Linked DNA regions of Homo sapiens: region 1 is linked to region 2. A link means that fine-mapping ties the variant in region 2 to the expression of a gene that starts in the linked region. Tissue or cell type: cerebellum. Region 2 holds a variant in brackets; the other region holds the start of a gene. All regions are shown on one strand. Distances are between the middles of the regions.

Region 1 (5,308 bases), 47 kb before region 2:
TCAGAGGGTGGAGGGTCGGAAGAAGGAGAGGATCAGGAAAAAAAAACTAATGAGTACTAGGCTTAATACCTGCCTGCTGAAATAATCCATACAGCAAACACCCATAACACAAGTTTACGTATGTAACAAACTTGCACGTGTCCCTGAACTTAAAAGTTAAAAAAAAAAAAAAAAAAAAAAAGACGGCCGGGCGCTGTGGCTCACGCCTGTAATCCCAGCACTTTGGGAGGCCGAGACGGTCGGATCACGAGGTTAGGAGATCGAGACCATCCTGGCTAACACGGTGAAACCCCGTCTCTACTAAAAATACAAAAAACTAGCCAGGCGTGGTGGCGGGCGCCGGTAGTCCCAGCTACTCAGGAGGCTGAGGCAGGAGAATGGAGTGAACCTGGGAGGCGGAGCTTGCAGTGAGCCGAGATCCCGCCACTGCACTCCAGCCTGGCAGACAGAGTGAGACTCCGTCTCAAAAAAAAAAAAAAAAAAAGATAGACATGAGCTAGATGAAGGGAGAAACATACTCTGTGCAGAGAGCACACATACCAAGGTACAGGGCTACAAGTTAGCAGGCTGTGTACCCCTTAGTCAACTGAGAGAAGTGAAGCTAAAAATGTGGGCAGGAGCCAGAACAAATTGTCTTTTATGCTAAATCCTGGCATCATGTCCTGAATAATCTTTCCCTTTCACACAAAAATAATATTAGCACATAACTTACTATGTGTCAGTCTCTGTTCCAAGTGCCTTACATGTACTGGCTCATTCGTTTCTATATTCCAGAGAAAACCATTTGGTTCAGTGTATTAACTCGTTTAATTCTCACAATAATCCATGAAGTGCATATTATTATTATGCCTTTTCTTAAAGAGGAAACTGAGGGCAAGTTACACAGCTATATTTAAACTCAGGCAGTCTGCCTCTAGAGGCTCAATCTCTCTTTTTTTTTTTTTTTTTTTTTTTTTTTTTTTTTTTTTTTTAGACAGAGTTTTGCTCTTGTTGCCTAGGCTGGAGTGCAATGGCGCGATCTCGGCTCACTGCAACCTCCACCTCCCGGGATCAGGCAATTCTTCTGCCTCAGCCTCCCGAGTAACTGGGATTACAGGCATGTGCCACCATGCCCAGCTAATTTTGTATTTTTAGTAGAGATGGGGTTTCACCATGTTGGTCAGGCTGGTCTCGAACTCCTGATCTCAGGTGATCCAGCCGCCTCGGACTCCCAAAGTGCTGGGATTACAGGTGCGAACCACTGTGCCGGGCCTCAATCATCTTTTTTTAGAGGTGAGGATAGTCTCACTATATTGCCCAGGCTGGTCTCAAAACTCCTGGCCTCAAGCAGTCCTCCCCACTTAGCCTCCTAAGTAGCTGGGATTATAGGTGTGAGCCACCTCATCTGGCACAGAGACCAAACTATTAACCACTCTGCTTCTCATTCATATGTGATACTTCAAATATTTAAAACATTTATTTATTTATTTATTTATTATTTTTTGAGACAGAGTCTCATTCTGTCACCCAGGCTGGAGTGCAGTGGTGCAATCATGGCTCACTACAGTCTTGACCTCTTGGGCTCAAAGCAATCCTCCCACCTTGGCCTTCTAAAGTGCTGGGACTACAGGCATGCACAACCACACCCGGTTAGTTTTTAATTTTTTTTGTAGAGATGGGGCCTTATTATGTTCCCCAGGCTGTAAAACATTAAATTTTTTACAGGTTATTTGGAGGCTATCGATTTGGTACAATATTTCTTTCTGTATGTGCATGTATTTCTTTCTGTATGTTTATCTTTATTCCAGAATCATGCTGAAGGTAGTCTATGCCTTTGCTATTTTCTTTTTCAGGTTTTTCTTTCCTTTTTAAAAATAAATATTGCCTATTCTTCAAGGGAACTTTCATAATAATTTTCTCTTTTTTTTTTTTTTTTTATTTTGAGACCGAGTCTTGCTCTGTTGCCCAGGCTGGAGTGCGGTGGTGCGATCTCAGCTCACTACAACCTCCACGTCCCAGGTTCAAGAGATTCTCCTGCCTCAGCCTCCCAGGTAGCTGGGATTACAGGTGCCCACCACCGTGCCCAGCTAATTGTATTTTTAATAGAGACGGGGTTTCAACATGTTGGCTAGGCTGGTCTCAAACTCCTGACCCCAAGTGATCTGCCTGCCTTGGCCTCCCAAAGTGGTGGGATTATAGCCATGAATCACTGTGCCTGGCCTTTCGTAATAATTTTCTTGAACTAAAATTTGGGATTAGGCCAGGCATGGTGGCTCACACCTATAATCCCAAGCACTTTAGGAGGCCGAGGCAGAAGGGCTGTTTGAGCCCAGGAGTTCAGGACCAGCCTGGGGGACATAGCTAGACCCCACCTCTACCAAAAAATCAAAAATCAGCTGGGCATGGTGGCATGTGCCTGTTGTCCCAGCTACTTGGAGGCTGAGGAGGGAGGATTGCTTAAGCCTGGGAAGTTGAGGCTGCGGTGAGCTGTGATGACACCACTGCACTCCAGCCTAGGCTACAAAGCAAGACTCTTATTAAAAATTAATTAATTAATTAAAAAATTAGAGATTAGAGAATTTTAGTTAAGTTAAATAAATAAAATAAAAAATAAAATTAGAGATTAGAGGATTTTAGTTAAGTTAAATGTATTAAATTGAAAAGTATTTCATTTTTCCATCCACAAAGTGCTATATTTTCTCATTCAAGTCTTCTCTCAAATCTACCAATACATTTTTGCAATTTTCCTAAAATAGGTAACATTTATTAAGATTGTTCTTAGATGCGTTATAATTTTGTGGAGAAGTGTAATTTCTTATTGTGTTTTCTAATTCTTTACTATTGGTATGTAGGAATGCTATATACTTGTATATGTTATTTTTCTTGATATATGAGATTATAAAATTACCACACAAAAACTCTAAAAATAGAAAAGCTATATACCTTATTCAATAATGTTCAAAACATTCAGAAAAGATTTGGGTCAATATGAAAGGCTACACGGAAAATAATGTGATTTTAATCCAGTGTTTACATATGTGTTAGTTACACATTCAAACTCTTGTCACCGATGCATTTTCATCTAATTTTTTCCATAATGAGAGAGAAGGAGACGCGTTGGTGACTGCAATAGGGCCACCTCCCTCAAATTACGTTGCTCTCTATGACCCATCCTCAGTCTCCCAGTTCAAGCTAATCATTGACAGAGCTTTACAATCACAAGCTTTTACTGAAGCTTTGATAAGACAGTCCAGCAGTTGGTGGCAAATGAAGCCAGGCTGTGCGGCAGGATCTCCAGGGAATGAATGGATTTTCTTCAGCACTGATGAAATAACCACACGCTATAGGAATACAATGTCCAACGGGGGATTGCAAAGATCTGTCATCCTGTCAGCACTTATTCTGCTACGAGCTGTTACTGGATTCTCTGGAGATGGAAGAGCTATATGGTCTAAAAATCCTAATTTTACTCCGGTAAATGAAAGTCAGCTGTTTCTCTATGACACTTTCCCTAAAAACTTTTTCTGGGGTATTGGGACTGGAGCATTGCAAGTGGAAGGGAGTTGGAAGAAGGATGGAAAAGGACCTTCTATATGGGATCATTTCATCCACACACACCTTAAAAATGTCAGCAGCACGAATGGTTCCAGTGACAGTTATATTTTTCTGGAAAAAGACTTATCAGCCCTGGATTTTATAGGAGTTTCTTTTTATCAATTTTCAATTTCCTGGCCAAGGCTTTTCCCCGATGGAATAGTAACAGTTGCCAACGCAAAAGGTCTGCAGTACTACAGTACTCTTCTGGACGCTCTAGTGCTTAGAAACATTGAACCTATAGTTACTTTATACCACTGGGATTTGCCTTTGGCACTACAAGAAAAATATGGGGGGTGGAAAAATGATACCATAATAGATATCTTCAATGACTATGCCACATACTGTTTCCAGATGTTTGGGGACCGTGTCAAATATTGGATTACAATTCACAACCCATATCTAGTGGCTTGGCATGGGTATGGGACAGGTATGCATGCCCCTGGAGAGAAGGGAAATTTAGCAGCTGTCTACACTGTGGGACACAACTTGATCAAGGTACTGTACAGCTAGCTTCTTCTTATAGCTTCAGAAAACACTAAGAATTTAAGAATTTACCTTCTGCCTCAGTAATTCTCTTCACTGAAATCAAGGCAACTGATTTTAAGCTAATTCAAAAGATCTATCCTCAAATTTTGCATTTAAGTTAGTGTATGTTTTATTTATCTAAGGTATTTTTAATGTATTAATCCAATTAGTTTTTTCAAAAGTTGCACTTTGAGGCTATTTTTAAATCTACCATTATACACTACAGTGTGAATATATGAGCTTACTTTCATTCTGTGGGAAAACAGTGCTTCATAAATTTAATTGTTGGAACCCTTTTCTGACAACATGCAATCATTTCAGAATTATCTTAAGGCACAACCATTTCAAATATGTATTTGTTGTTAAGTATAGCTAACTTAGCTAATAAGTAAATAAAGTAAGTAAATAAGTAAGCCAAATAAATGTTAGCTAACTCATGCATATTAAATACAGAAATTTAAATATACTTCACTTTTGATTTTATTTGTGTTACATAGCAAAAAAGAGAAGATTAATTGTTATGGGAGCTAAACACATTTCTTCCCATAAGAACTGGGAAGAATGTGCTCTACTAAAGCAATTTTCAAGCAATATATTTCAAAAGCTAGAGATAATGTTGAGAAATGTTAAAATTAGTAAAACAATAGTGAAAATACAAGCAAAATAATAGGTAATAATTACTGAGTACTTATTATGTACCACAGACTACATTAAGTATTTTACATGCATCGTTACAGTTGATCCTCTTAACAGCCTTTTGAACTAGTTTTATTATTCTTCCCATTTAAAAGATGAGGAAACTGAAGCTTAATGAGATTAAATAATTTTCCCAAGGTTAAGGAGTAAAATACAGCTGTTGTGGACATGGATTTTTTAAATGACAACATAATTAACACTAACTGTCTTCATTAAGAATGCTTTGAAAAGAAGACTCAGGAATTTGCAAGAGATTTAGCCTCACATTGAGGCTAATATCTAGAATCGAATTTAACTTTTTGAGTCAAATAGTTTACTTAGGAAAAATAAATTATTCTGCACACCTGTTACATTTTAAAAATGAAAAAACTTTATCAATATAATTTTATAATGTGCTACAAAAAGTAATTTAATTATTAATAATCAAAAGCTAAATATACAGAAGTAGAAAAAAAATACAGCAACATAAAATAATTCCATGTCTAAATTTGTACATACAAAAATATCTGCT
Region 2 (5,198 bases):
GTCCTCCTTCTCTGCCACTTGGGCATTATTTTACTAGTTTTTAAGCCATCATCGCACAAGAATCCAAAAACCCTTAAATTTTTTAACCACTGGCAAATATGTACAGCAAATTAGGTTAAGCATTTAATCTGGCTCATGCTCTATCATACTAAATATTCAGGTTTATCATAAACTCCTTAAAAACCATCAAAGGTCAACCAGAAACTGATAACTCTTGAAAGGAGCAAACAGGTAAGATCTTTGGAGTTTAAGCTTTTCTGAGATGTGTTGTGAAAAATCTAACGTGTTTATCGTATATTCAATGTAACAACCTGGAGAATCACAACTATATTTAAAGAGCCTCTGGAAAATGAGGCCAGTACAGTGTGACTACATGTTTAATTTTCAATGTAATTTATTCCAAATAAACTGGTTCATGCTGACCACTTGTATTCAACTAACAACCTGGTCAATTTTAAGAACTGTTGAATGTGAATGGGTTTGGCATTGTAAATGGGCTCTGCCCCAAGACTGCCTCCCCTGAATCCCTTTCTGCCTAGTTGTGCACCAACTTGGTATGTTACTTCTGGGTATATTTTCTCAAAAAATGTGGCTCAGGTGTGGTGGCTCACACCTGTAACCCCAGCACTTCGGGAGGCCAAGGTGGGCGGATTGCTTGATTCCAGGAGTTTGAGACCAGCTTGGGCAACGTGGCAAAACCCTCTCTACAAAAAACTAGCCAGGCATGGTGGCACGTATTTGTGGTCCCAGCTACACAGAAGGCTGAGGTGGGAGGACTGCTTGAGCCTGGGAGACAGAGGTTGCAGTGAACCAAGATCACGCCACTGCACTCCAACCTGGGTGACAGAGACCCCGTCTCAAAAATATGTGGACACCTACATCTAAAAATTGCAAAAATAGTGCACAAGTGCTTATCCATAGTAGACACAGAAGACAATAATTAAGTTTTCCCTGGAGAACTAGGCTCATTTGTTATACCCAAGTTATTAAAAAAAAAAAATCACTGTTTAGCTACAGTCTCTTAAGTTACCTTATGAAGGTCAGACCCAGCATGCCAGTCCATTTCATGCTCAAAGAAATCTCATTTACTCCCACAGCAGCTACTCCCCATAAGCTGATCCTCTCATGAGCATCTCCACCCCACTAGAATATTGCCACTTGGAAATTTCTCCCACAAGCCTCATACTGTTTTGAAATCCTGTCAATACCTTCCCAAAATCTCTCTCTTCCAGTCCCACTGCTATTACTGAGTTCCTTGGCAATCCAGGAAACAGCTACATGCCATTGTTCTGGTAGCTGGAATACACCAGAGTACAAAATTACCTCCTTGTGAAGGTTACATCCTAGCAGAAAAAAACACATCATCAATACACAACCAATTGTAAATATTAAAATTACAAATGCTATTGACAAAAACAAGTGGAGAAGGGTAACGAGACAGTAGGACAAGCTTAAGGAGCCGGTCTACTATTTTTAATACGGTGGTCAAGGCAGGATTCACTGAATAGACCTGAAGGTAAGTGAAATTAGCCACACAGCTCAGCTGAGAGCATTCCAAAGGGAAAACGACAACTTAAATGCTTAATGACAGAGTGCTTGGTATAGAGGATTAGCCAGGTCAATTCAGCTATAGCGCAGAAGTCAGAAAAATTGAGTTAAAAACGGCTGCAGGTACAATGGGGAGGCTATTTTAAAAAGAAAAAAGGGAAAAAAAACCTGTTGCAGGATTTGAAACAGTGCTATAATCCATTTCAAAATCAGTACCCTGGCTGATGCTGAAAATAGACAGGAGAGGAAGATGACCAGTTGACTGTCACAATAATCCAGGTGAACTTCGCAGGTCTTTGTTTCATTTTCTACATTGTAAAAAATTTGTATCTAATGGACCCATATTTCCCAACCTTTCGAGGATGTGATCTTACTTCACGTTGATCCCATTCATCGCCTACAACCCCATCCGTTATTTCTGAGCAAATCCGAGATTTATGATTTCCTCCAAATTTCTTAAAAACCTAACCAAATAGTCATCAAACAACAAGACTCCTTAATGTATGTTCAATTAGTGTACTTGAATCCAGATCTAAGACGTATAGGGCATGGTGACCCATGCCTGTAGTTCCAGCCCTCTGGGAGGCCAAAGAGGAACACTTAAGGCCAGGAGTTCAAGACCAGCCTGGGAAACATGAGACCCCATCCATACTTTAAAAAAAAAAAAAAAAAGATGTGACGGTGCCTGCCTGTAGTCCTTGCTACTAAGGAGGCTGAAGCAGGTAGGATTATTGCTTGAGTCCAGTAGGTTGAAGTTACAGAGCTATGACTATGGCACTGTATTCCAGCCTGGGCAACTGAGTAAGACATTGTAAGATCCAAGATAACATATATGCCAACTGATCGTGACCTCTGTCCTTATATTTACTTTTTCTGATAAAGTACCTGACCATACCTTACAATGAAGGTACTTAGTACGTTTTCCTGACGCATTTGATCAAGGATGAATGTTAAATTTTGCCTTAGAAATTGCAGTTTCCATCAAATGAGATGTAGAATTCACAAAGGTTTGGGGGTCACCATGTTGACCTAAGTCTAGTTATGGTGGCCTTGTACCATATTTAAAGTATAACACATGGAATTAAGAGATTATGGAAGGGTTATCAATTTTTAAAAACAAGTTCTAGGGTATGGAAGTAAATGGCTGAGGTAAAGGACAAGATTATTGAGACCATGAACCAAACCAACTACACCTTCTAATTCTAACTGATGCTGTATCACTCTGTTCTACTCCTCAGCTGTTTCTCCACCAGTGACTAAGACAACATTTGCCTTACCAAATATTCAAATTCATGCCTCAGCAAATTTAGACACTTTCAGGGTATTCCTAAAGTTCTATATGCAATGATGAATGGCCTCATGTTTGCCTGTCACTGGTACAATATTCCTCTTGCCTAAAATATATCCTTGCTATTCCTTCAAGAACCAGATTAAAGCTCCTTGTTCCACGAGGGAAAAAAACTAGCTAAAAAGGATAACC[G/A]GTTTAAGAAGAAGGTCCAAATCAATAGGTCTTTTATTGCATCATTTAAATATCACAAGTAGGTCTTAAGTGTCATCTGGCATCTTCTTTCTGTAGCCAGGTAACTGTAAAAAAAGAAAAAAAATCTGTAAATCCCCATCAATACACTTGCCCAGGAAAGTACTAATCTTTTTTCTGTACTATTCTAAATAATCTAAAACATACCTCAAGACTATGACTTACTGATTCATAGTAAACTATACGTAGTAAAATGCATGCCAATTCCATCTTTTATTCTGTCAAATTTACTGTGTTCCAGAATGCTTAACTCTCCATTTTCTATTACTACAAATTCAGTTTAAGTCTTTTAGTAAATTAAGAGCTTCATTCAACTAGAGCAGTAATAAAACTTAAGACACTGTAAGAACTTACCTCTTAGATCTTATTCATCAGCCTGCTGAACAGTTCCTTTTTCAGAGACATAGATACCATCCAAAAATTTCCTGATATCCTTGTTTTTAACTGTTGTGGCTTGCTGAATCAAAGCCGCTATAGGAGTGAAGATAAAGCAATTAATACATCAGCCTAACCCATCTTAAAAAGAAAGTATTTCATTATGTGCTGTACTTAAAATTTCAGAATGTGACCTTTTTATTTTCACAATTTAAAAAGCTAATCAAATAAAAATTAGCAAAATACTGTATTTTAAACAAGATTTAGACAAAATCTTGTAGGCATAGTTAGACATAGTAAACATACAAACCTGAATTTGAAACAAGCTCAATGTCATTTCCTTCAAGGATTAATTCATCTTTCTGGGCTTGAGATACTGAACAAGCAACACCTAAAAGGGGAGAGGGCATTTGCACAGCATCAAATCTGTGTAAAAAATATTTAAATTGCAGAGGCACTAATTTATTCCATGTAAAACTCCATGCACCAAAAGAACCTTTTCTTAAGATTTTGAGGCCGGGCACAGTGGCTCACGCCTGTAATCTCAGCACTTTGGGAGGCCGAGGCGGGCGGATCATGAGGTCAGGAGATCGAAACCATCCTGGCTAACACTGTGAAACCCATCTCTAGTAAAAATACAAAAAATTAGCTGGGTGTGGTGGTACGTGCCTATACTCCCAGCTACTCAGGAGGCTGAGGCAGGAGAATCGCTTGAAGCCAGGAGGCAGGGGTTTATTTTTAACATAAGGGTTTTCATTAAATGTTGCTGACCATAGCTAGTATCAGAGTATTTCTGGACAGCCATTATTTTGATACTAAGAATCTCCCTTCTTCCCACCCCTCCCCACCCCAATGGAATCAAAATGCATCAAGAGGCCGAGCCAGGTATGTTTTAAGAGGCCAAGGGGGAAGAACTGCTTGAGCCTGCAAGTTCAAGACCAGCCTGGACAACATAGCAAGACCCTGCCTCTACAAAAAACTTAAAAATTAGCTGGGGCCAGGCACCATAGCATTCCTTGAAATCAGCCTGGGCAACGTGGCGAAACAGTCTCTACAAAAAATCAAAAATCAGCTGGATGTGGTGGCAGGCACCTGCAGTGCCAGCTAGTGGGGAGGCTGAGGTGGGAGAAACACCTGAGCACGAAGGTGGAGGATGCAATGAGCTGAGATCACGCCACCGTACTCCAGCCTGGGCAACAGAGCAAGACCCTGCCTCAAATAAAAAGCACTAAGCTTTAAATTTTTTTTAAAGCTACTGTGTTTACTATGTATTACGCATGCATTGTTGTTTTTCAACTTTAACTCATTTAATCAAAGATGTTTGCAATTTTAAGCTGCAGAGAGATGACATGCCCAAGGTGGACAGTGAGAGCTGAAATTTACGCTAGGCTATTAACCACTACTCATGTAGTTTTCTCTTTAGATTTTAAAGGTTCTTACCACGAAGAAATAAATGGAGTGATGGATGTGTTAATTAGCCTGATTTAGTCATTCCACAGAATATGCATGTGTTGAAACATCACATTGTGCTCCATAAATACACACCATTATATACACCTTTTGTAAATTTAAAGTCTTTTTAAAAGATTTCATTTGCCAAGTTAAATACAACCACCACTGCAAGCTACTCCAATGTATCAACTTTCTGAAATTGTAATCGACATAATGATATAAACCCTTAAGTAGCACCAACAGTTTAAGTGTAATCAAGAGATAATTCTAAAACAAATCTGGTTTT

Alleles and levels. Positions count from the first base shown, and alleles are read on the strand shown. Sizes are in standard deviations (SD) of each study's normalised expression.
With allele G in place of A in region 2, the expression in cerebellum of the gene that starts at base 3,227 in region 1 is higher (large effect, 1.2 SD a copy in GTEx).

Evidence for each region. PIP is the estimated chance that this variant, and not a neighbour inherited with it, causes the effect.
Region 1: it holds the start of KLB, and the variant in region 2 is fine-mapped to the expression of KLB in cerebellum (GTEx, PIP above 0.99). The same link has a PIP of 0.9 or more in cerebellar hemisphere, cerebral cortex, nucleus accumbens, prefrontal cortex and substantia nigra.

The regions. Positions count from the first base shown.
Region 1 is chr4:39,403,704-39,409,011 of GRCh38, forward strand. KLB (klotho beta) reads left to right here and starts at 3,227. Exons shown (of 5, transcript NM_175737.4): 1 at 3,227-4,071. The coding sequence starts at 3,247.
Region 2 is chr4:39,451,094-39,456,291 of GRCh38, forward strand. KLB (klotho beta) reads left to right here. Exons shown (of 5, transcript NM_175737.4): 5 at 1-440. It overlaps RPL9 (ribosomal protein L9), which reads right to left. Exons shown (of 8, transcript NM_000661.5): 6 at 3,771-3,851; 7 at 3,440-3,556; 8 at 3,031-3,132. The coding sequence ends at 3,450. Among named protein-coding and RNA genes, the nearest start is that of RPL9, 5.2 kb to the right of the region's middle. The variant G/A (reference allele first, on the strand shown) is at 3,029.